3 separate regions of the Homo sapiens genome follow, and regions 2 and 3 are each linked to region 1. The links come from fine-mapping of genetic effects on plasma protein levels. A gene starts in region 1. Each other region holds a variant in brackets. All regions are shown on one strand. Distances are between the middles of the regions. Region 1 holds the start of TNFRSF6B (TNF receptor superfamily member 6b). Region 2 holds the start of LOC124904954 (a long non-coding RNA gene). Region 3 holds the start of ZBTB46-AS2 (ZBTB46 antisense RNA 2).

What was found. PIP is the posterior inclusion probability: the model's chance that the variant is causal. The UK Biobank Pharma Proteomics Project read protein levels with antibody pairs (Olink). The fine-mapping took linkage between variants from a reference panel, not from the people measured, so its PIPs are less certain.
Region 2: its variant is fine-mapped to the plasma level of the TNFRSF6B protein (UK Biobank, PIP above 0.99).
Region 3: its variant is fine-mapped to the plasma level of the TNFRSF6B protein (UK Biobank, PIP above 0.99).

Annotation. Positions count from the first base shown.
Region 1 is chr20:63,695,429-63,701,499 of GRCh38, reverse strand. It overlaps TNFRSF6B (TNF receptor superfamily member 6b), which reads right to left and starts at 4,848. Exons shown (of 3, transcript NM_003823.4): 1 at 4,309-4,848; 2 at 3,978-4,172; 3 at 2,816-3,220. The coding sequence starts at 4,732. The coding sequence ends at 2,937. RTEL1 (regulator of telomere elongation helicase 1) reads right to left here. Exons shown (of 35, transcript NM_001283009.2): 34 at 5,850-6,071; 35 at 5,255-5,722. The coding sequence ends at 5,642. It overlaps ARFRP1 (ARF related protein 1), which reads left to right. Exons shown (of 8, transcript NM_001267547.3): 7 at 798-898; 8 at 970-2,853. The coding sequence ends at 1,057. RTEL1-TNFRSF6B (RTEL1-TNFRSF6B readthrough (NMD candidate)) reads right to left here. Exons shown (of 38, transcript NR_037882.1): 34 at 5,850-6,071; 35 at 5,646-5,722; 36 at 4,309-4,740; 37 at 3,978-4,172; 38 at 2,802-3,220. RefSeq lists enhancers at 1,859-1,938, 1,079-1,960, 2,009-2,058, 2,129-2,308, 2,549-2,598 and 2 more.
Region 2 is chr20:63,672,834-63,680,462 of GRCh38, reverse strand. It overlaps RTEL1 (regulator of telomere elongation helicase 1), which reads right to left. Exons shown (of 35, transcript NM_001283009.2): 10 at 6,370-6,523; 11 at 2,280-2,318; 12 at 2,117-2,195; 13 at 517-614. It overlaps RTEL1-TNFRSF6B (RTEL1-TNFRSF6B readthrough (NMD candidate)), which reads right to left. Exons shown (of 38, transcript NR_037882.1): 10 at 6,370-6,523; 11 at 2,280-2,318; 12 at 2,117-2,195; 13 at 517-614. LOC124904954 (a long non-coding RNA gene) reads left to right here and starts at 2,088. Exons shown (of 2, transcript XR_007067717.1): 1 at 2,088-2,819. RefSeq lists a cis regulatory region at 3,878 and an enhancer at 3,806-3,950. The variant T/C (reference allele first, on the strand shown) is at 4,941.
Region 3 is chr20:63,739,958-63,744,499 of GRCh38, reverse strand. It overlaps SLC2A4RG (SLC2A4 regulator), which reads right to left. Exons shown (of 8, transcript NM_020062.4): 1 at 4,462-4,542; 2 at 3,969-4,123; 3 at 3,021-3,130; 4 at 2,444-2,631; 5 at 2,270-2,370; 6 at 1,885-2,164; 7 at 1,710-1,801; 8 at 450-1,621. The coding sequence ends at 1,510. ZBTB46 (zinc finger and BTB domain containing 46) reads left to right here. Exons shown (of 5, transcript NM_001369741.1): 5 at 1-830. It overlaps ZBTB46-AS2 (ZBTB46 antisense RNA 2), which reads right to left and starts at 675. Exons shown (of 3, transcript NR_186425.1): 1 at 1-675. RefSeq lists silencers at 3,607-4,306, 4,317-4,466. The variant C/T (reference allele first, on the strand shown) is at 1,039.

The DNA.
Region 1 (6,071 bases):
GAAGTGATGCTGGGGCCCTGGTGGGAGTCAGCTCTGACCCTTACCTGTTCCTGCTACCCTTGGAGGTGGCATCTGTGCCAGCCCCACCCCCAGGGCAGCCCCTCAAGACCCCTCTGAGGTGCCACTGCCCCCGGGAGCACTGGCCACGCTGAGTTCTAGCTGTTCTCTTGGAGTGGCTTTGCACAGAAGCAGCCCGGCGTCCAGAGGGCCAGGTGAATCTTCACTTCCTGCCTTCTCTGGGGTGGCTCTGTTGCCCCCAGCCTGTAAGGCTGGCCTCCCCTACAATCTCAGCCGACAAGAGGGACATCTGGTACGGGGCAGGGGTCTCCCCTCGGAGGAAAAGGGGAGGGGAGGGCTGCTTTTTGAAGACTGGGCAGGTGGTTGTGAGCAGAAGCCACCATGACTGCAGACTGCCTCCATCACTGATGCAGGGCTCCCACCTCTCCATCATCCCCGGCTGTGTGGGCCCCTGGGACCTGCCTCCGCCACTGCCCAGGAGGCCTCAGTCCTCAGCGCCCCACCTCGGGGCTCAGGGTGTCCCCCAGGGAGGGGATGGGGGGTGGACTCCTTGGAGCCGTGTGGACGTCTAGTTTGTCTCAGGCACTACCAGCCATGTTCAGCCTCGGGCTGAGCACAGGGTCCTCACTGCTGTGGTCTCTGTGGGAGACACTGGGACCCTGGTGGAGCTCTGGCTGTTTCCCTGGGGTGAAGGGCATACGCCCTTCTGAGAGTCCCGGGCCCACAGGCAGGACAGGGCCAGACGTGGGGGCTGCTCCTCACGGCCTTACCTCCCCCAGACGTGCCTCTCAATCCCTGACATCAAGACGGCCTTCAGCGACTGCACCAGCAAGATCGGCAGGCGAGATTGCCTGACCCAGGCCTGCTCGGCCCTCACAGGGTGAGTGGGGGCTGCACCTGCGGGGGCTTTGGGGACCGAGACCCCCCGCCTCACACCCGCTGTCTTCACAGCAAAGGGGTGCGCGAGGGCATCGAGTGGATGGTGAAGTGTGTCGTGCGGAATGTGCACCGGCCGCCGCGGCAGAGGGACATCACGTAGGCGCAGCCGCGCTGCCGTCGGGACGGCTGGTCCCCTGGTGCTGGAGGAGTGGCCTCCTGTTGGCTCCCATGCTGCTGATCTGGGGGGTGGGTTTGCTTTGCTTTGGGGTTCTTCTATTTACTTTGTTTTCTCGAAGACAAACTTTCCTCTATGTCTGGAAAAGCGTAGGCATCCGGAGGCTTTGGAGGGGAGTCTGGCAGCCCGGCTGGCCCAGGCCCTGCAGCGGCAGCCTTTCCACAGGGCGCAGCGGCGGCCTTTCGAGGCCCTTTCTGGGGGGTCTGAGGGAGACCTGGTTGGGAATTGGGGCTCCAGTGCTCAGGCTGGCTTGGGCTGCATGAGGACAGCCCTGTGGGACCCTCGGGAGACCCCGTGGCTGTCTCCGCCCCATCGAGGAGGAGGCCCGTCAGCCATGGCTGCCATCTGGCTTCTGCCCTGTGACCCCGTGACCCCGTGACCCCGGAAGTGGTCTGGGGCTGATCTTGCCTTGAGGAAGACCCAGGCCATGTTCCCAAAGGCCAGCGGGGGCCCTGGATTGTGATGCAGCCTCGGGACAGGGCTGAGGCCTGCGGGGGAAGACCTATACCCCACGCCTGGGCCTGGCTTCACCTCACCCTAATCCCCCGGGAGGGAGCTGACTGATGCAAAAAGCTGAGGGGGCCTGCTGGGAGTGGCTGTTTTTATGCCCCAGCCCCGCAAGTTGGGGAGTGTTTGTGGGGGTCCAGAGCCCTCCCCCAGCCAGGAGAGAACCTCCCGGAGGGGTTCTCTGTGGGGCCCTGTGTCCCCTGCTCGGGAGTAAGGCTGGTCCTGGGGTCCTCCCTGCACGGACCCCACTGGGCCTGCCGAGTGCTGTGTTCTTCCTCAGTCTGGCTGTGGGCAGGAGCGGCCTGCCCAGTGTCACCCAGGGTGAGTGCAAAATAAAGACGGCGAGTGTGGCTCTGTCCATCCCTTCCCTCCTGGAGGGTGGAGGCTCCTGGCTGTTGGACACGGTGATGGTGTTACTGGGCTGCTCAGGGGCTGGTGGGCAGGTGAGGGGCTCCCCAGGTGGGCCTGGAGAGTCCAGGCACTCCCTTCCTGCGGATGTGGGAAGGACATGGGGTCCTGGGAGGAGCTGCTGGGAAGGGGCATGAGTCAGGGTGGGGGTGGCGCAGCAGCTGCGGGGCTGTGACTCACAGGAGTCGGGCCCTGGAAGTCCCCGCGTCCTCTCCAGGGGACCCTGTGTGTGTTCTGCAGGTTGGTTCCCAGGACCTGGGGGGGACCTCCAGCCCCGGGAACCTGGCCGTGCTGGGGAGGCGAGTGGCTGGTGCAGCCCCCCGGTTGCTCTGGGTGCATCGGGAGGCTTCAGAGCCTGCCCCAGAGAGGGAGAAGCTTCACTTCCCGGAAAGCATGGGAGGCCTGGAGGAGGTCTTTGGCAGGTCCCCTCTCGGGAAATCCCCTGTGAGTTGGGAGTGGGAGGAATTCATAAGTGGGGGGTTAGTGTGGGCCCCGGCGACTAGGGCTGGCCTGAGCCCCATCCTGTTCTTCCAGCAATGATACCCTCCCAGGCCCTGACCCTCGCTGAGCTTCAGGGGCCCCTGCCACGTGCCACAGCCACTGGGGGCAGAGGTGGCACTCCCCACTGATCCTCCCAGGGAGGGTCTGTCTGAGGTAGGGGAAGCCCCGGGCAGCAGTTCTGATGGCAGGCAGCCTGAGGGATCTGGGCACAGCGGGCGGCTCAGGTGTCCCCGGCTGCCCTCCCAGTAGCTGTGCAACTACAACCAGTTTTATGAAAAAGCTTTATAAAAATAAGCTTTAAGAAACCTCATTTCTTCTATTTAAAAAAAAGCCTCTTTCAGTGCAAGTGGGGTGCCAAGGATGTAGAATAAATAAGAGGGGGCCAGGATCAGTGCACAGGGAGGAAGCGCTCACGGACGCTCCGCTCCAGCCCGGGCATCCTGGCCACGCGCAGCGCCTGCAGCAGCCGCACCAGCAGCGCCCCGTCCTGCGCCCCCAGGAGCTCCGTGAGCCGCCGACGCAGCTTCAGCTGCAAGGCCGCGCGGCCCGCCCTTGGTGTCGGACCCCAGCCCTCCGGGGCCTCGAGGGCCTGCAGCAGCCGCTGCAGCCTCTTGATGGAGATGTCCTGGAAAGCCACAAAGTCGATGACGGCACGCTCACACTCCTCAGCTCCTGCAGTGGGGTGGGGAGGCAGCGGTCCGATCATTTCACCCACACACACTGGCGGGGGCTGCCAGGTACCCTGCTTTCTGGGCCCCACTCGGGGGGTTTGCAGGAGAGAGAAATCCCTGTGCAGTGAGCCGTGCTGGAGAGGGCAGTGCAACGATGGGGACTGGAGAAGGGGCAGGAGCCTTCGGTCAGAGAGCTGGAGCAAAGGCCTAGGGGGCAGGAGCGGCCACTCGGACCTTGGCTGCAAGAGGCAAGGGGGCCCAGGCAAGGGCTTGGGGCTCCTGGGCCATCGGAAGGGGCGAGTTGGGACCTGCAGATGGACCGGACCTGACTTGATGTTAAGGGGGTCACTTCCCCCTGTGACTTCTCAACAGTGGTTAACATTGGGCCTCGGTTTCCCCATGTCAGAGGAGGCAGCCACCTTCCTCTCAGGCAGTTAGGAGAGTTACCATCAGGCCTCGGTTTCCCCGTGTCAGAGGAGCCAGCCACCTTCCCCTCGGGCAGTTAGGAGATTGCTGCCCACTTTCCCAGAGCTCCCCAGGGGAGGCTGTGCCCTGGCTCAGATCCAAATTCTCAGCCACCCCTGAGAGGGCAGACTTGGTGGGGATCTAGTGGAGGGACCCCTGACCCCTCAAATCCACTGTGGCCCCTTCCCAGAGCCAGCTGGCATGCCTCAGGCTAGATGCACGTGCAGGGGCAGGAGTGAGGGCACAAGTGGGCCTGGCCTGCAGTGTGCTGCCCCCTCAGGCCTCTGGCTCACCTGGTACCCTGGTGCTGAGGGGGAAGCCAGTGCAGCTGGTGCACAGGGTGTCATGGGAGGAAGAGCCTGGCACATTGAGGGCCAGGCCCAGGGCCGTGCAGTTGCGGTGGGGCTGGCACTGCTCTGAGCTGGAGCTGCTGGCTGAGAAGGTGCCTGGGGGGCACGGCTGGCACTGCGTGTTCTGGCTGGGGGTGCCTGCAGCCAGGAGGGAAGAACAGGGTCAGGGGAACTGGTGTCCTAGCTCAGGGTGCAAGGCTGGGACCAGCAACCTGACCCCTGCCACACCTCCGGCCACCACTCCTGGGGGCCCCTCCCCTCGCCCAGCTCTCACCCGGGGCAATCACGCCGGCACCAGGTGGACACGATGCGTGCTCCAAGCAGAAACCAGCGTGCGCGAAGAAGCCGGTGCGGCAGCGGCAGGCACGGTTGTGGGTGGCGTGGCAAGCCCGTGCCTCCTCCTCACGCTCCCCGCAGAGGACGTTGCAGTAGCGGCAGCGCTCTAGGTAGTTCCAGAACTGCGTGTAGTGGCGCGGTGGACACGGGCCACACGTCGTGGGGCTGTCTCGGCGGCACGGCCGCTGCACAAAGGTGCCTGGGGGGCACTGGGCGCACACCAGCCGCTCCCCTGTCTCTGCGTCCCGCCAGGGGTAGGTGGGTGTTTCTGCCACTCCGCGTACAGCCGGCACCGGCAGCAGGGCAGGCAGCGCCAACACCAGGCACAGCAGCGACAGGCCTGGCCCCTCCAGCGCCCTCATGGTCCTTGCTGGAGCAGGGAGAGCGCGGCTCAGCGCGGACACAGGACCCTGCTGTGCCTGACCGACATGCCACCTCCTTTGCCCCCGGTCCGCCTGCGGAGGGGCCGCCCAAGTCCAGAAGCCCATCCTGCTGCTGCCCTACATATATGGGCGGGGAGAGGGCTGGGCCAGCCTCGCCACGCCCCATAGGAACCCCTCCCTCCCCAGGCAGCCCCCCTCACCCACCTGGTACCATCCCTCCCCAGAGCTCAGTCCAAGGGTGGTTCTGGGAGGGGCCTCACCAGCCAGGGAGCTGCCCTCCTCAGCACCTGGGGCAGCTCCCAACCCAGAGACCAGCCCAGGCAGCCTGGTGTGTCGGTGGATCCCCTACCAACTGCAGCTTGGCTGCGGCTGTGAGGATGAGGGCAGGGCTGAGCCCACCGTGGAGGAAGTACAGTGTCACATGGCAGGCTGGGAGGGGCCTCTGCCAACTCCCTGTCCCTCAACTCCCACCACCAAGCCCAGGCCACGAAGACACCGTCCTGGGCACTGCCAGCAGCTTTATTAGAGAGCCCTGTCCCCTGATTAAAAGTGGACACGTGCCCACGGGGGTCTCCTCCTTCCCGGTGAGGGGCTCAGCTGGGGTGCCCCTGTGGCACCACTCACAGGCCAGGAGCCAGGGAAGTTCTGGGGAAGCACTTTCCCAGAAACCCACCCCAGACCCCAAGGTAGCTCAGGGCTTCTCAGAGGCAGGCCCAGATCCGGTCCCACCGCAGGGACCAACCATGGGCCCCGCCTGCCTGAGGCCTGCAGCGGGCCAAGCCGGCTGGCATGGGCTGGCCTATTCTGTTGGGTGGGTTCTTGGCCCACCAGAGCTGGACAGGCAGGTGATCAAGCCACGTTGGGTGTGCTGGGGGCCTCCGTGGGCACTCACTGGGGCTCTGGCCAGAAGACCTGCATGACGCTCTGCTTCCTGGAGGCGGTGTGGCAGGCTGGGCACATCCTAGAGGCCTGTGAGACAACCGGCCCACTGCACACGTCTGCCAGGCGTTGCCACCAGGACAAGGGCCTGCCCTTTCCCCCTCAGCCCATCACCTGGGGCTACACCCAGCAGGAACTGTAGTGGCCAGGCACCAACCTGAAGGTGCCGTTGCCAGCAGGCTTGGCAGCGCTGGAAGTCACAGGCAGGGCACTGGAAGGGCACCACGTCCTCTGCCCCACAGCCCTGGCACACACAGCCTGCTGAGAGGGGCCCGCCCGGAGCTCCCGTGGCCTGCTGCCCAGCGATGTCTCTCCCATGAGGCTCACCCCACTCAGATGCTGCAGGCCCGTGGGGAGGTCCTGAGGACTGGCTGGGACC
Region 2 (7,629 bases), 22 kb after region 1:
AGGGACAGAGTCTCCAAGGGGGTCAGTGGGACTTGAAAAGAGGCTCTATGGTCGCCTAAGGGTTGAAGCAGCAAAAGCCACCCTCCCCAGCACCCGGGAGCGCAGCAGAGGAGAGACCCCGCTGGGCCCGGCGTCTCAAACCAGAGCAGCCCATGGGGACACCGCCTCTGGGCAAAGCCTCTGGACCCCACAACTCTGAGAAGCAGAACTCGGGGTGGTGTGGAGAAGCCAGAGGCCCCACAAGCCAGCTAGGGCCTTGGGCTGCTCTTTCTCAAAAGCAGAATAATGGGATGAGGCTGTAGGACGAAGCCGCCAGCTGCAGAACTGGGACAGGCTCTACGGCAGCTGGCAAGTGGCACTAACGCCTCCACGCCCCGATCAGAAGATGAGGTTCTGTGGGCCTGTTCCTGCTGACGGCCAGGTGACGGCCAGGGGAGCCCTGACTGCCAAGATGGAGGCCTGCTGCACCCCCTACGCCACATTTGCCCGCACCAAAGACCCCGTGCCAGCACTCACGTCCTGCCAGGTGCTGGATGATCTGGTCCAGCGAGTCCAGGATGCAGCCCTTGGTCTGAAACGTGATCTGGGCTTCAGCAAACAGCTCAAAGATGTAGCTGCCGAGGAGAAGAAGGCAGGCTCGAGCCTGGCGGGGGGACCAGACTGCAGCTTTGGGAACTGAGGAGAAGAAGGCAGGCTCGGGCCTGAGGGGGGACGACACTGGTCAAAGATGTAGCTGCCGAGAAGAAAACAGGCTCGAGCCTGGAGGGGGAAATCAGGCTGCAGCTTTGGAACTGAAGGCAACAACTGTGGAAGTTTCCTTCCCTCGGAAACAAATTCAGCCCTCCAGGGGACGCCAGCATTGGAGGTGAGAGGCCTCCGCCCTCAGGAGCCTCCAGGTGGGGAGAGGAGGCCTGGCCAGCACGAGAACAGCACCGAGGAAAAGAAGCCGCCTCAGAGCAGGGGCCGCCGTCAGAGGGGAGGGATGGGGTCACTAGGGGGTCGTCAAGAGGTTGTCAGGGGCTTCTGGGAGGCGGTGGCTCTGGGCAGAGTCCCCAAAGCTTTGGAGAGTGACAGTGATGGGGCAGCAGAAGCTACAGGAGGGGACCCTGAGGGTGCAGGGTGGCCGAGGAGCCAGGCCAGAGCCTTGAGCATTACGCTGAGGACAGTGGCTCCACCTGGAAGCAACTGGGATTCCCCCGACCAGGTCGGCGCTCAGGCAGAACACGCTCCACCTCGGCGGCTGTGCGCTCAGGAGAGCCCCCACACAGGCCCCAGCCCTGACTCCTCATCTGCCTGCAGGACAGACAGCAAACCCTGCTGCCCTGGCTGCGGAGAAGACTGGAGCCCCACGGAGCGTTCAGAACGTTCCAGGCCTCCCGGAGTCCAAAAGAGGTGGTGGCTGGGACACTCATCGTCCTAACAAGAAGGTCTCGTTCTAACAGGCACCTGTGCTCAAATGACGGACTGGACCAGGGTCCAGGGAAAGGCCTGGAGGAGGAGAAACTGCAGGAAACCCAGCGGCCCCGCGTGGGAGAGTGTGCTGTTCCGTGGGTGTGTGTGTGCTGTCTGTGGGAGTGTGTGTGCTGTTCCGTGGGAGAGTCTGCTGTTCCGTGGGAGTGTGTGCCGTTCCGTGGGTGTGTGTGCTGTTCCGTGGGAGTGTGTGTGCTGTTCCGTGGGAGAGTGTGCTGTTCCGTGGGAGAGTGTGCCGTTCCGTGGGAGTGTGTGCCGTTCCGTGGGTGTGTGTGCTGTTCCGTGGGAGTGTGTGTGCTGTTCCGTGGGTGTGTGTGCCGTTCCGTGGGTGTGTGTGCTGTTCCGTGGGAGTGTGTGTGCTGTTCGTGGGAGTGTGTGTGCTGTTCGTGGGAGTGTGTGTGCTGTTCCATGGGTGTGTGTGCCGTTCCGTGGGGGGCTGTGTGCTGTCCCGTGGGAGTGTGTGCTGCTCCTCTCAACATCTCAGCAACCAGATCATGCAAAGCAGGTGCTCCTCCCAGGTCTCAAAAAGGGAAAACAGGCCTGAAAACAGGCCTCACTCGTGATGTGACAGCCCAGGACTGCACCATGGCCCGTTTCTAGCTCTAGGCTGGGCCTGCAGTGAAGGGGCTGGCTCCCCGCCTCTCACCTCCCTGGCTTGGTGACACCGCTGTCGTCTCCAGGCAGCTCAACAGCATCGATGGCCCCCTCCAGGCGCAGCAGGATCACTGTGGGTCGAGGAGGTGTCACCCACCTCCTCGCAAGGAGGAGGCCCCACCCAGCTGCAAGGAGGCGGGGAGGGCAACACTTACTCTTCAGCTTTGCAATGTCTTCCAGCTCCATGTTCAGCCCTGGGCAAGAGAAAGGCAGCAAAGGCAGTCTGCATCACGCTCGTGCCAACAACCCCGCCCTTGAGAACCAGGATTCCTGGCATGGAAAAAAGGACACCAACATGGAAAGGAAGAGGCCACACAGAATCCATGCAGGCCAAATCCACCAACATGGGAAGGAAGAGGCCACACAGAATCCGTGCAGGCCAAATCCACCAACAGGGGAAGGAAGAGGCCACACAGAATCCGTGCAGGCCAAATCCACCAACAGGGGAAGGAAGAGGCCACACAGAATCCGTGCAGGCCAAATCCACCAACAGGGGAAGGAAGAGGCCACACAGAATCCGTGCAGGCCAAATCCACCAACAGGGGAAGGAAGAGGCCACACAGAATCCGTGCAGGCCAAATCCACCAACAGGGGAAGGAAGAGGCCACACAGAATCCGTGCAGGCCAAATCCACCAACAGGCGAAGGAAGAGGCTACACAGGCCAAATCCAAACTGGAGACACCAAGAGGAGCAGGTGTTTTATCTTTATTTATCTATTCATTTTTGAGACAGGGTGTCACTCTGTCACCCAGGCAGGGGTGCAGCAGCGCCATCTCTGCTCACTGCAACCTCCATGTCCCAGGTTCAAGCAATTCTCGTGTCTGTCTCCCGACTAGCTGGGACTATAGGTGTGCGCCACCATGCCCGGCTAATTTTCGCATTTTTAGTAGAGATGGGGTTTCACCCTGTTGCTCAGGCTGGTCTTAAACTCCTGACCTCAGGTGATCCACCAGTCTTGGTCTCCCAAAGTGCTGGGATTACCGCTGAGCCCTTATGCCTGGCCGGGTGTTTGACCTTTAGAATTAACATTTGTGAACACACCTGTGCGTATGGCTGTATCTCCACGAAAACACCCAGTAACAACGACCAACCCAGTAACCATGACCAACCCGCTGCCGCATGGCGGGTCTTGAAATACCGTCTTGCAGGAAAAGAAAGCAGGGCTTCTTGGAGACTTGGCTGATTCCAGGTCTGGAGCAGGACATGAGTGTGAAAAATCCTGACTCCCAGACAGCAAAGAGGCCACAACCGCCGGGGTCAGGACACAAGAGCCCACATGAAAACACCTCAAGGTGCAGCAACTGAGGTCAGGAGTGAGATTCAGGAGGGAGCATGGGGCAGGACCAATCCCCACGTTCACACACAAACATTCAGTGATGACACTTGATTGACTGATTGATTTTTGAGACGGAGTCTCGCTCTGTCGCCAGGCTGGAGTGCAATGGTGCGATCTCGGCTCACTGCAACCTCCGCCTCCTGGGTTCAAGTGATTCTCCTGCCTCAGCCTCCCAAGTAGCTGGGATTACAAGCATGCACCACCACACCTGGCTAATTTTTTTGTATTTTTAGTAGAGACGGGGTTTCACCGTGTTGGCCAGGATGGTCTCAATCTCTGACCTCGTGATCCGCCTGCCTGGGCCTCCCAAAGTGCTGGGATGACAGGTGTGAGACAGCACACCCGGCCCACCCCCAGCATTTGTCCCACCTTTCCTGTGTGAATGGGATCACCACATAGCTGATATGGTGCAGGGCGTGGTCCTAAGTTATTCCTGCTAACTGACTAGATGATGGAATTAGCACACTGCCATCTTGCAAGCCCCCAGTGATTAACATATTCAGGTGTTCAGCAGCAACAATGTTCACATGGGAAGAAACGGGAAAGGAGATACTGTGAGCCTTCTGATAGAAAGGACGTCCCATCTGGAGCCCGGCAAACGGTGGCCGCAGTCTAACTGGGGCCCTCAAGCCACCTAAGTTCAGAGTAAACCGGGGAACTCGTGTGGCTGCCCCTCCTGTACAGATTCCGACTCTGCAGGGTAAACGGCCTGGGCTCTTCAATAAATAAAGTGTGAGGAAAAGAATGGACCCTGCCAAGCACAGTGGCACACGCCTGTAGTCCCAGGAGCTTGGGAGGCCGAGGCAGGAGGATCACTTGAGCCCAAGAGGTGGAGGCTGCAGGAGGTGGAGGCTGCAGTGAGCCGTGATGGCACCACCGCTCTCCAGCCTGGGTGACAGAGTGAGACCCCATCTCCAAAGGGGTGGGGGAACAGATAGGGATGAAAACTGAAGTTCTGGTCCTGAATGAGATGGCAGAAGCCCACCCCACCACACGTCCCCCACTAGTTACAACAAAAAGCCCTGCACATCAAGTAACTAACAAAACTGAAGAGTGGAGAAGGCCCCGTGGTGATGTTCACACAGGCCTGGGGGTGGGTGGATGTTTCTCCCACGTTATGTAAGCGATGAAATGGCAGCTGCCGAGATGAGGGAAGGAGACCTGTCACTCTCCCCACCCTGCGCCAAGCGAAGGATGGAAAGAGGCGGCCGTCCACCCCGTTAGAGAGGTGGGGTTGGGGGACTGTGGAGAGGAGGGAGGTGGAGCGTTCAAAGTCCCAGGAACCCCTTCCCCCACTGCAACTCCCTGCGTGGCAATCTTGAGAGCCGGTGGCAGTGGTGCACACCTGTGGTCCCGGCGCTTTAAGACGCTGAGACGGGAAGATCCCATGAGCCCAGGAGGCCGAGGCTACAGGGAACTTTGATTGTACCACCACATTCCAGCCTGGGCAACAGAGTGAGACCCTGTCACTTAAATATA[T/C]GTATATATATATATATATAAAGGGATTCTAAAGCCAGAACACCTGATAACTTCTGTACTAAACAAATGCCAACTTTGCAAACTCACTCTCTACCAAGCAGCCATCCTGGTGAGAAGGGTGAGGACGGGGCTCCCCAGGGTCCAGGGTCCCCGTGGTGTCCGTCCACATGTGCGATTTTAAAGGAAAATGGGGGAAGCTGATGCTGTTTACACCTGGAGATGCTCACGAGCAAGTAGTGTCACAGCAGAACCTATGAAGATATTCACACAGACTCCTAGTCAGCTGTTTACAGAAGCCATGTAGAAAATATGGACAAAGGCCGGGCGTGGCGGCTCACGCCTGTAATCCCAGCACTTTGGGAGGCCGAAGCGGGTGGATCACGTGAGGTCAGGAGTTCGAGACCAGCCTGGCCAACACGGAGAAACCATCTCTACTAAAAATACAAAATTAGCTGGGCGTGGTGGTGCACGCCTGTGATCCCAGCTACTTGGGAGGCTGAGGCAGGAGAATTGCTTGAACCCAGGAGGCGGAGGTTGCAGTGAGCCAAGATCGCGCCATTGCACTCCAGCCTGGGCAACAAAAGTGAAACTCCATCTCAAAAAAAAAAAAAAGAAAGAAAATATAGACCAACTGACAACATCCATGAAGGGTTTCCACGTTTTCCACGTATGCCGTGACTAGCGCTGTGTGGAAATACACCTCTGGACAAACACTGGGAAGGAACCTACAGGCAGAGCAGCTGATGCATGCCAGATTTGTGGGTCATTTAAAGATGCAAAATGCCCTTACAGTGAATATATTTAGTTTTCCTTTTTTTTTTTTTTGAGATGGCCTCACTCTGCCGCCCAGGCTGGAGTGCAGTGGAGTCATCTGGGGCACCGGAAGCTCTGCCTCCCAGGCTCAAGCACGCCTCCCACTTCGGCCTCCGGAAAAGCTTGGACCACAGGAGCACACCACCACACCTGGCTAATTTTTTGGCAGGGGCGAGGTTCCGCCATGTTGCCCAGGCTGGTCTCAAACTCCTGGCCTCAAGCGATGCTCCCAACTCAGCTTCACAAAGTAGAGTTTTCCAGTTTTACACAGTAGAGGCCAAGTTGATACTGGCTGGGAGAAGACATAGGTCTTTGGAAAATACCAGAACTACTGAACAATACCAGCCCTTCCACAGGCTACAGGACCCTGAAGAATTCACACCCAAGAAGCCTCTGAGAGAAGCGGATGCCCTGCAGTGCCAGCCTGAATAGATGGTGCCCAGGCCGACCACACACAGCCACAGGGCAGGCTGCCCACTGCAGTAGCACGGGCCTCAGGACCAAGCAGCCTGGCTATGAACGCACCTGGGCTGGGGGAGTCCGTGCTGAACTCCGGGTGGGGCTCACCCTGCAGCAGCGCAGGCCTCAGGACCAAGCAGTCTGGCTATGAACGCACCTGGGCTGGGGGAGTCCGCGCTGAACTCCGGGTGGGGCTCACCCTGCTGCGCTGCCTTGGTCTGCTCCTCCAGCACCTGGTCTATGACGTCCAGTCCTGAAGCCAGGTCATGGGGAGTCAGGTCAAAGGATGCCGATTCTTCACACATCTTCTCCTAGAGCCCAAGCACACCCGAATCACCACAGAACAGGACAGGATCGGGGGTTCCAGAAAGCAGAAATGGGGTGGGGGTGCAGAAGGCACAGGAGGCTGACAGCCAAGTTCCCAAAGCCTTGGCCTGGGGTCTGTAAAAGGCCACAAGTAGGTCCAAACATGACTGTGTGGCCCACACCAATATTTAGAAACGATTGTTTCAGGCCGGGCGCGGTGGCTCACACCTGTAATCCCAGCACTTTGGGAGGCCAAGGTGGGCAGATCACTTGAGCTCAGGGGTTCAAGACCAGCCTGGGCAACGCTGGGAAACCCCGCCTCTACAAAAAATACAAAAATTAGCCGGGCGTGGTGGTGTGCACCTGTAGTCCCGGCTACTCGGGAGGCTGAGGTGGGAGGATGGCTTGAGCCCAGGAGGTGGAGGTTGCAGTGGGCCAAGATCATACCACTGAACTCCAGCCTGGACGACAGAAGGAGACCCTGTCTCAACAAACAAACAAACAATTATTTCACTGGAATTGCCAATTATTCTTTTTGATTTTATTTTTTTTGAGACGGAGTCTTGCTCTGTCACCAGGCTGGAGTACAGTGGTGTGATCTTGGCTCATTGCAACCTCTACCTCCTGGGTTCGAGTGATTCTCCTGCCTCAGCCTCCTGAGTAGCTGGGACTATAGGCACACGCCACCACGCCCAGCTAATTTTTTTGTATTTTTAGTAGAGACGGTGTTTCACTATGTTGGCCAGGATGGTCTTGATCTCTTGACCTCGTGATCCGCCCACCTCAGCCTCCCAAAGTGCTGGGATTATAGGCATGAGCTAGCGCGCCCAGTCAACATTTTTTTTTTTGACACAGAATCCCGCTTTGTCACCCAGGCTGGAATGCAGTGGTGTGATCCTGGCTCACTGCAGCCTCTGCCTCCAAGGTTCAAGCGATTCTCCTGCCTCAGTCTCAAGCCATGTGGCCGGAAGGGCAGAGACACTGCAGGCAAGACCACAAGCCTGCTGCTGCCGAGGGCAGAGGAGACAGCCCTGGCCCAGGCTGACCCCGAGCTGGCTGGAGGGAAAGGGTCTGGTGAGCGGCCTGTGGGGGCCCTGCGCCTGACGGGCAG
Region 3 (4,542 bases), 44 kb before region 1:
TTTTGTATTTTTGTTTGTGTCTGTTTGTATTTTGGTGTTTACAACACCAAAGTGGGAAATACAGTCCATTGGGGATGGTGTTATTTGGGGGCGGGGAGGGGGCAGGGACACCACGATTTTTCTGTCAAGCTCTGGATCCTGACCAGGTTGTACACTGGGGCTCTCTGAGCTTTGGGACACAGGACACTGCCAGGGCTACGTAGGGAACTGACTCAGAAGACGCAGCTTACTGCTTCCAACTTTGCACATCTTCCTCTTTAAAAAACTGAGAAAATGCAAAAACTGGAACTTTTTGCAATATTATAAAAGAAGTAATCTTATTTTAGCTCATTCTGTGACATGTGCGACTCTTAAGAAAGCCATACTTAATGGTGGTGGTTTTTTTTAGATCTTATATTGTGTTTTGTATGCAGCCCTTTTAGAACTACTTGTAGTGAGGGTGCTGTGTGTGCTTTTCTTAAATATTTATTTTTTTCAACATGCTTTCAACCTGTCAACAAAAACAAAACACACAAAAAAAGGGCAGTGTTTGAAGATTGTTGATTTTTTTCTGGGGATAATCTATATTATATTGACTTCCTATTACTTATTATAAACCTGTGTTTGTATTGGAGATGTGTCTACTATTGGGGGAAGAGGTTCTCGTAATCGCTCGGTGGGAAATCATGGCTCTGCCGTCCTGCCTCTCTGTGGCCGTGGGTTCACGTGGCCTCTGCGGTGAGTCTCCAAGTTTCTGCCTAGGCGCCTGTGCGTTTCCTTTCTGTGACGGGATTAGCTTAGACATCCTTGCAAAGCGATCACTTTCAATAAATTGGGAAATTGCTGCTCCAGCAGATGCCTCCTGCGTCTCAGATGATCCTTCCTCCGGCCTCGCCTGGGGTGGCGGCGGCCGACGGGTGACCCTCGGCCCTCTGTGGGCAGCTGCCAGACTCCACCCACTTGCCCACCACAGGGTCCCAGCCCCACGGCCTTCCTCCCGAGAGGCAGACAAAGCTTCTGGAAAAACCTCAAATCTTTAATTTCTCTCTTCGCCTGGTG[C/T]AGCCCAGACGTGAGACACCTGAGCTTCAAAAACAAACATGGTAAAAACAGCCCCAGGGCCCGAGAGCCGTTGAGTTAAGTGCGAGTGGGGGAGTCCCCTCTCCAACACCCCTCAAAGTGCATCGGGACTGGCCCCCCAAAGCTGGGCCCATAACACCCTTGATAAATCTACGGGCCGACAGGCGGGAGGGTGGCTGCCCCCAGGGCCCTTGGGGCTAAGGGGACAGCGGTGTGGTTTGGCTTTAGTGCAAAAAGCTGGTTTCTTTAGAGGCACTTTGAGTGGTGGGACCCCTCCCCGACCTGGCGGGGGGGAGGGTTCAGGGTCAGCCCCGCCCCCCCACCCCAAGTAAAAGCAGACCCTGCAGCTGGTGAAAGCCAGCCCCTGGGGCTGTCCTCGGGCTGTTTCAGCCCCGGGCCTGGAGGGGGTGGGGAGGGAGAAGGTGGTAGCTTATGTTCTTGAACGAGCCGGACTTAGTCCAGGAACCGCTGGCAGGCTTTCTTCCAGCGGCAGGCTGTGCACCAGAGGTCCCGGCGCTCCATGCCATACACCTTCCGGCACTTCTTCGCGTCGCCGCGGGGCTTCCTGTGCGGGGGGTCACAGGACATGGGGTGCTGTGAGACCAGGACCCTCCCCACCTGGTGCCAGCCGCAGGCCCTCAGCCCACACGCACCTCAGGGTGACTCCGATCCTGGAGGACAAGGCGGGTGGGCAGGCTCCGACCTCCGTGGGCTGCGGCTCCAGGCGGGCGGGCGTCAGGCAGCCCTACAGGGAGACACAGCCAGGGCTTCACTCCCCTCCAGAGAGCCCTGAGACCCGCCCCAGCTGCCACCCGTGGCCTCACCCACCTGGTAGACACGGTCACTGTGACAGGACTGGGGGTTAGCAACGGTGCTCAGGACAGGGGGCGGGGGCAGGGGCGGGGCAGGCGGCCGCAGGGGACTAGGCAGGGCTGGGGGCTCCAGCAGCTCTGGCAGCTCCAGGCGGGGGAAGGCAGGCGGCATGGAGGCCGTGGGGGACACTGGAGTCAGGCTGGACAGCCCGTCGGTCAGCGTGTCCACACCAACATCCAGCTCTGTGTAGTAGAAGTCCTCCTCACCATCACTCTGCTCAGGCTCTGCCTGCCTCCTGCGGGAGACACAGCCAGCCAGTGGGAGCTGAAGGGGTGGCCTGGCCGGGCCTCACAACCCCAGCCAACCCGCAGGCCCCGCCGCACCCCAGGCCCCGCCGCACCCCAGGTGCACCAGGCGGATGTGTCTCTGCATCGCCGACGCCGTGCTCAGCACCTTCCCGCAGCTCTTCCACAGACACTGGAACATGACCTGGGCCGGGCTCTGCAGCAACAGGGGCCAGGGTCAGGCTCAGCCGCCACACCCGCCCCTCCCTGGGGGCCGCCCCCAAGCTCACCTTCCTTTTTCTCAGGGTGGGCTCCCCAAACAGAAAGTGGGCTGCCTCGGGGGGCAGTGGGGGTGACGGGGTGGACGGAGAGGACTGGTCACTGGCCAGGTCCCATCCCCAGTCTCCACTGTTGCTGCTGCTGCTGTAGCTGCCTGGGGGCCGCACCAGGGCCTCCTTCCAGGGCTCCAGGCCAGGCTCTGTGGGGACACGGGCCCCCCGCCTTAGAACTTCGGGTGGGTCCAGGGAGTCCCTAATCCTGAGCTGCCCCTGTTCACCAAGTCCGGTGAGACTGGTGGGCAGAGCGTCTTGGAGGAGCTGGCCCCAGGGCTTGGGGAGAAACCCCCCCGGCACAGGAAAGGGTTGGCAGACGTGTGTGGCCAGCCGCGTGGAGGTGAGCAGGTCAGGGAGGCCAGAAGGCCTGGGTCCTGCCGCTTTGGCCTCAGTAGGGGGCACTGAGGGTGCGGGAGTCCATTTTAGAAAGGAGTCCCAGGTTTGAGGGCTCTGCTTGCCCCACAGAGGCTGGGTGGCTGTAGGTTCTGAGCCCTGTCCCCACCCACACCCCTAAATGCAGACATCTGAGTCTTACCTGGGCTGAAGGCTGCAACCGGGGCCCCCAGAAGGAGAGGGCTGGTGGACAGGCTTGTAAGGGCAGCGGCAGCCATGACCTCGTCCAGCCGGGCTTTTCCTGGGGTGGCTCTGGAGGAGATGGGGGCGGGGTGCGGGTGACCCAGCCAGAGCTCTGGGCCCCTCCCCTGGTCGGTCCACGTGCAGGCCTGGGCACGCGTGCACACCAGGCTCCCCACTCCCAGCCCTGGGCATGAGGCCTGGCTCCTCCCCCAGCTCAGGTTGCAGAGAGAGCTGAAAGCCACCCGGAGCCGCCAGGAGCAGGGCCAGGGTCTCCTGAAGCCTGAGTTCTCCACATCGCGGGCTTGGCTCCACTGTGGTTCCTTCAGATACTGGGGCTGGGCAGGGGTCTGAAGCCCTGGCAGAGGGGCGGGCCAGGCCCAGGCCTCCCCCCATCACACATTAACCAGGGTTGTGCAACAGCAGCTGTGGGCCTCACGCCAGGCCTGGGAGGTGGGAGTGGCCAGCAGCCGGCAGCAGCCAGGGGGAGACTGGGCTGGAAGCACGGGCAGCTCCCCAGGCCCCAGCGAGCCAGGCCAGGGCCCGCCCCTGCCCTGGCAGCCAGACCGAGGTGTCCGGCCTGGCAGGGGTTGGGAGGTGGCGGTCAGGAGCCCCAGGGATTCCTGGACAGTCGCCCCATGCCGACCGCGCAGCCTCTTCTGCACAGAGACGCACAGCCACCCGCTCCGGGTTCTGAGCTCTAGCCCCGAGGAACTGCGGTGGAGGGAGGTGTAGGGACTCCCAGTCATCGATCATTTCTGCTCAGCTCCTCCAGGGCTGAAGAGCTTGGGGGTGGCTGGTAATTACAAACCTGGGGCCCTGACCTGGCCTCCGTCGGGGCCGGTGTCTCCGCACCCCACCCACCGCCCCTGCGCACACCGAGTCCCGAGGCACCGGGCCTCCCGCTCACCTCTGCGCTGGGACGGGGATGTGCGCCGACGGAGTCCGGGGCCCCGCCGCCGCCCCCGTCCACGTCCGGGGGGCCCCCAGGTCCGAGGCCCGCGGCTCCGACTCCTGCGGCCGCGCGAACTCCAAGCCCGCGAAGCCGCCGCCCACGGAAGAGCCCTGCGGATGGGGAGGGGGCAGACTCAGCGGAGGCGGTGGCCGGGGGAGGGGGGTCCCTCAACCTCCGCCGCGGATCCGCTCGGCGCCCGCCTCGAAAACCGGCTGCGGCCGGTGTGGACGGCGCGGCCCCGCCCCCGGCCCCGCCCCCAGCCCGGCGCGGCGGGAAGGGCTCCCCGGCCGCCCGGCGCAGCCCCGGCGGGACCCACGGACACGCGCGGACCGACGCGGCCGCCCTCCCCGCTGCCCCGCCCCCGGGGGCCCGAAGTTTGGGCAGCACTGACGCCATCTTTGCAGCGAGAGAAACTTGGTCGGCGCCCCCGCCCACCGGCGCCCGGTACCTGCGGCGGCGTGGGCACCGTCACGGGCGCGGCGCGCGGCCCCGGACCCTCCGCGCGCAGCCACGGCGCCTCGGCCCGCAG